Linked DNA regions of Homo sapiens: region 1 is linked to region 2. The links come from fine-mapping of genetic effects on gene expression. A gene starts in region 2. The other region holds a variant in brackets. All regions are shown on one strand. Distances are between the middles of the regions.

Region 1 (2,876 bases), 30 kb before region 2:
CACCCACATGGTCACCCACGCTGCCCCAGCTCCTGGGCTCTGGCACAGAGGAAGGTGTCAGCCCTGTGCCAAGGTTTCCCCACCTGCTTCCCCCAAATCCTCAGGCACTGACTGTCTCCAGCTGGAGCTGGGTACTCCCGGCAGCCTGCCCCCGGCTGGCGGGCACCAGCTCCTGGCAGAGGGGCTGGTGTGTAATTAGAAGCTCCACAAACTCCCTAATTGCCAGTTCTTCTCCCAAACCAGGAGGCTGGCGCTGTTCTGAGCCGCCCTGTTGCCGGCTGCCTGAGGCATAGAGAGAAGAAGAAGCCAGGAGCAGAGCCAGGCTGGCGTGGAGGTGTCCCGGGGGAGGGCTGGCGAGGTCAGAGGGGACCACGGGGTGGAGGATGCCTGGCGAGCGGCCAGAGGCCAAACGTGGCACTGCGCGGGCTGCCACCCCTGCTGGGCCCAGGGTTCCTCAGCACAGTCCACCCTGCGGCCGCCTCCCTGCCTTCCCCACCATCCTCACTTGTCCCCACCCATGCCCAGAACGGTGACATCAAACCAGCCAGGCCCATTCATTCTTTATTCAGGTGGCATAAAAATCACTACAAAAACCTTACAAAAGAGCCTTAAGGAGCTCATGGGATCCTTCCCTGCCTCGGTTCCTGAGCTCCCGGGCAGAGGAGGGAGACAGGAGAGGAAGGAAGGGAAATGCTGGCAGTGTTGGGATCTCGAGGAGCCGTGGGAAGTCTGGCGTGACAAGGCACAGGGGGTAGGATGGAGGCTGATGGACTCTCGGCAGGTTAGGCCACAGCCAGGCTGTGCCAGACACGAGTTCCACGCGGGGCTGAGGACAACGCTTCGCCTCCCGAGCCACCACCAGGGCCCGTCTCTCCCCACCCTAGCCTAGGTGTCCCGGGACAAGTCCAAAGGCAGCCCTCTCCCCCTCCCTTTTTCTCTGGTAAACAAAAGTCGGGGTGTCCCAGCTGACGTGGGGAGCAGCTAACCTGTCTCCTGGCAGAACTAGAAGCACCTCCCTCCTGCCCAGGCCCCGGTGCAGGACACCCTCTGAGCCTGTTTGGAAGAAAGATGAGGGTCAGGCTCCCGGCTCCCCGATGCCTGCCCTCCTCCCAGCCGCGCCCCCCCCCCACCCTAAACTCCCCAAGAGGTGTTGGGAAAGAATGGCCTCTCTCAGACTGCCCCCGGCCCCTGCCCCAGTGCCACAAAGCCGGTTGGAAAGAGTCACATGAGTGGAGAGGCTGGTCCAGGCAGGGACTCTGGATGCCACAGCCACGGCCCCTCACTTGGGGCTGCCAAACTGGGGGTAATCCTCCTCCATGGGGGGCACAAGTTTTAAGTCAGGGCCGAAAAGCTTGTCTCCGCGGGGGAAGCCTTTCAGGCTCTGGAGGAAGTCCTTGTTGCCCGGGGAATCCTGCTGTTCCTTGAGCTCCCGCGGTGCACTGGGGTTGGGGTTC[C/T]TCACGCTGCCCACGAAGAGGGGAAGGCCTGTGGTGTCCTCGAAGATGAAGAAGAGGAAGGGGCGGTTCACGCTGAAGGAGGACAGGGACATGCGGGACATGGCAATGCTGGTGGCCGCCGCCGCCTCCACGCCGACCTCGCTGAGCTCCAGGGTGGACTGATGCTGCACGCCGGACACCACCAGGCTCTGCTCGGAGATCCCACGCAGGTCTGGGGCCTGGAACAACTCCTGCAGGCCTGCCCAGGGCCAGAGATGGCTGGTCAGAGCTGCCCTTGGCCTCACAGGCTCCTGGAGCTGCTTGGGAGGGTGTCTGAGATCCTGGCCAGGGAACAGCTTGAACTCACAGATACCTGCTTCATTCCTATCCGGTTTCCAAGACTCAGCTTAAACACCACCTCCTCCAGGAAGCCTTCCCTGATCCCCAGCTCTAAAGTCCAACCAAGGTACATTTTCAGTGTTCTCCCAGGTGAGCTGGAGAGAAGCCCTCTCTGTCTTATCGCTTATGCTGTAGTAAGTATGTGATTGCTCGTCTGCCCACCCCATTAGACTCAGCTGTTTGTACATGGTGGGCTCCCGGTACCTGGTACAGTGCCTGGAATACAGCAGCTGCTTAGCAAATGGCTGAAGGATAGATGCTTTATTTATTTATTTTAGTTATTATAATTTTTTTTTGAGATGGAGTCTCACTCTGTCATCCAGGCTGGAGTACAGTGGCGTGATCTCGGCTCACTGCAACCTCCTCCTCCCAGGTTCAAGCAATTCTCCTGCCTCAGCCTCCCAAGTAGCTGGGATTATGGGCATGCGCCACCACGCCCGGCTAATTTTTGTATTTTTAGTGGAGACGGGTTTGGCCATGTTGGCCAGGCTGGTCTCAAACTCATGACCTCAGGTGATCCACCCTCTTTGGCCTCCCAAAGTGCTAGGATTACAGACGTGAGCCACCATGCCCGGCCTTTATTTTTATTTTTGAGACAAGGTCTTAGTTCTTTTGCTGAGGCTGGAGTGCAGTGGCACAATTATGGCTCACTGCAGCCTCAGCCACCTGGGGTCAAGAGGGCCTCCCACCTCAACCTCCCCAGTAGCATGCACCACACCTGGCTAATTTTTGTATTTTTTGTAGGGACGGAGTTTCAATGTGTTGCACAGGCTGGTGTCGGACTCCCGGGCTCAAGCAATCCACCCACTTCAGCTTCCCAACGTGCTGGGATTACAGGCATGAGCCACTCCACCCAGCATTTCTTTAACAGTGTGACACCCCAGCTTCTCCTCCTTCCCCTTCCAGGGAAGCCAGCGAGGCTCACATGCCATCCCAGGCTCTCTACCCAGACTCTCCTTGCAATGCGAGGTCTTGGGCAGCAAAGCAGAGCCCCATTCCCCGGGCCACCCCAACTTCCTCTAGGACAGAGGGTCTGGGGGCTCA
Region 2 (2,895 bases):
GAAGTCCAGTTGCTTATCCCCCTTGTTGAGGCGGAACTTGGACTTGCGCAGGTCTCGGAAGCGCCCATGGGGCGTAGTGAAGTCCACCACCCAGGGCAGCACGGGGTGGTAGTTGGGGTCCCCCTGCCGCCGACCTGCCAACCGATTCAGCTGCATGAGGTAGTGGAAGTTGCTGATGCGGCCGTGGACCCAATCTAGCACGAGGCTCCGAAGTTCCTCCTGGCCAGTGGGTTGCCCAGGTTGCCCTCCCTGCTCCTCTTGAGACACAATGCCCGCCTCATCCCTTGCCACAGGGGCCTCCTCATTCTCGTCCTCCTCGGGCCTCTCATAAGCACTCAGGTCCAGTCGCAGCTCGCTGCAAAGCTTCTCATCCACTGCGATGTGATACAAAGACAGGGCCCCACACGCCAGCCCCTGGCGGTGACAGGCGTCCATAGCCCTCAGCACGCGGAAGAGAATGAACAGCACCTTGGCCTGGCTGTTGGTCAGCTTGGCAGGGCTGAAGGTGACCACGTCATGTAGGGAGAACTGTACGTAAGGGTGTACCACATACAGCATCTCCGGCGACTCCAGCAAGGCCTCAGCCCGTAAAAGACTAGGGCAAGCAGGGCTGCCCCGAGGGGGGCAGGGGCCTTCTCTGGCATATGAAGGGCATTGGGTAGTTTCACCCACTGGCAGGAAGGAGCAACCATAGACCCTCTGCAGAGCCTGCCGTACTGAGTCCAAGGCAGGGACAGCTGAGGGGGCAGGGCTGTGACTGTACGGCTGGCCGTAAGTGTGGTATGCATGGCGCCACAGGTTGCGATAATTCTGGGCGGCAACCTCCTGCATGAAGCGAGTGAGGGTCTCAGGGCCGCAGGACCCGTCCTCAAAGGGCAGGCCCCCGCCCAGAGGGTAGGACAGTCTCCGCTTCCGCAGCCCATGCACCTCCACGCGCGTCCAGCCGGCAGGCAGCCTTTGCACAGAGCGCTGCAGGAGAGTCCTGACTTCCGCTTCTCCCAGGCCCTCTGCGCGGGGACAGGGTCCCAGGGGCAGCCGGCGATCGCGGAGGCTGGCCAGCCAGCGCGCAGGCACTAGGGCCACCACGTGGGTGCCCCCCGGGGCCGGAGCCAGCTGCCTGGGATCGATGCTCAGGTCCCTCTCCACGCTCCGGAGCAGCTCCTGCATGTCTGGGCTTGGCGGGGAATGCCAGCCCCCGGCCGGGGTTCTGAGAGCGCCTTCCCGCCCCCCGCTGCCCTGGGCCATCTCCTCCAGGCCGCCCGGGGGCAGCGCGGGGCTGAGCCCAGCCACGGCCCTGCTGGCGACGGCTTCCGGGGTGCCAGGCCGGCGGGGCTGGGATGGGCGCGGGACAGGGGCTGGGGCGGAGGCGGCCGCAGGAAGCCGGCGGCGGCGAAGAGGCGGACGGGGGGCGCGCTTACCCCTCCGCGGGTCCTGCGCTCCGGGCGCGGCGGGGCAGAGGCTGCCGGGCGCGAGCACCGGGCTCCACCGTGACGGGTCAGCTGACGCGGGTCACGTGATCGCCCCAGCACGGAAACAAGCGCACGTGGCTCCAGAGGCCCGGGCGGGACCCCGCTTCCTGCCCGGCGGCCTCCCCGCCCTCCCTCCCGCTGCTCCGCTCTGGCTCGGTCTGGGCTCCGCTTCCTCCCGGGGCTGAAAGGGTCTCCAGCCAGCTCCAGCCGGGCCCGGCGGAGGGCGATGCCTACCGCCCCACCCCTCCCTACTCCCTCCAGCACGCACCAGCGCGCGGGTCCCGGAGGCTGTTCCCAGAGATGCCAGCCTCTTAGTTAAGTGCGGACCGCACAACCAGGGGCAGAACTGGGACTTCTGTTGTGTCTATTTTTGAGACGGAGTCTTGCTCTGTCGCCCAGGCTGGAGTGCAGTGGCGCGATCTCGGCTCACCGCAACCTCTGCCTCCCGGGTTCAAGCGATTCTCTTGCCTCGGCCTCCCGAGTAGCTGGGACGTCAGGAGCGCGCCACCACGCCCGGCTAATTTTTGTATTTTTTAGTAGAGATGGGGTTTCGCCTTGTTGGCCAGGCTGATCTCGAACTCCTGGCCTCGTGATCCACCCGTCTCGGCCTCCCAAGGTGCTGGGATGACAGGCGTGAGCCACCGCGCCCGGCCAGAACTGGGACTTTTGACATGGAATCCCCCCGGCGCCTCCATGCCACCTTCCATAGGAAGGAGCTTTTTAACTTTCCTAAGTACTTCAACAGTCACATTCCATTTGGCCCTCGCAACACACTCTGTGAGGTAGGGAGGACAGTTATTACTGTTTATATTTTACAAGTGATAACCAACAACCGCCAGAGAGGCTTGTCCGCCTGGCGGAATGGAGACTTAGAAACTGGTGCCAGCCTTCTTTCTGCCCAGGAGCACTGCCTCCTGACAGCCCTCTCACGGCTTTTTAAAAAACAAAACTGGCCGGGTGCAGTGGCTCACGCCTGTAATCCCAGCACTTTGGGAGGCTGAGGCAGCTGGATCACGAGGTCAGGAGATCGAGACCATCCTGGCTAACACGGTGAAACCCCGTCTCTACTAAAAACACAAAAAATTACCTGGCCGTGGTGGGGGGCGCCTGTAGTCCCAGCTACTTGGGAAGCTGAGGCAGGAGAATGGCATGAACCCAGGAGGCAGAGCTTGCAGTGAGCCGAGATGGCGCCACTGTACTCCAACCTGGGCAACAGAGCGAGACTCCGTCAAAAAGAATAAATAAATAAATAAATAAATAAATAAATAAATAAATAAAAATAAATAAATAAAAATAAAACCAAATAAATAAATAAAAATAAATAAATAAAATAAAATAAAAATAAAACGAAACCCTGGGCTGTCTGAGGGAGAGAAGTGGCCCAGGCCCAGAGGCCTGGTGTTTTGGGGGAAGAAATGTTCCCCCA

Direction of the effects. Positions count from the first base shown, and alleles are read on the strand shown. Sizes are in standard deviations (SD) of each study's normalised expression.
With allele C in place of T in region 1, the expression in monocytes of the gene that starts at base 1,501 in region 2 is higher (small effect, 0.40 SD a copy in BLUEPRINT).

Evidence for each region. PIP is the estimated chance that this variant, and not a neighbour inherited with it, causes the effect. A credible set is the group of variants that fine-mapping cannot tell apart.
Region 1: its variant is the best candidate, but not a certain one, in a credible set for the expression of WDR81 in monocytes (BLUEPRINT, PIP 0.80).

What each region holds. Positions count from the first base shown.
Region 1 is chr17:1,752,938-1,755,813 of GRCh38, reverse strand. It overlaps SERPINF2 (serpin family F member 2), which reads right to left. Exons shown (of 10, transcript NM_000934.4): 10 at 549-1,692. The coding sequence ends at 1,280. Among named protein-coding and RNA genes, the nearest start is that of SERPINF1, 7.7 kb to the left of the region's middle. The variant C/T (reference allele first, on the strand shown) is at 1,455.
Region 2 is chr17:1,723,310-1,726,204 of GRCh38, reverse strand. It overlaps WDR81 (WD repeat domain 81), which reads right to left and starts at 1,501. Exons shown (of 10, transcript NM_001163809.2): 1 at 1-1,501. The coding sequence starts at 1,245. RefSeq lists an enhancer at 1,438-1,938.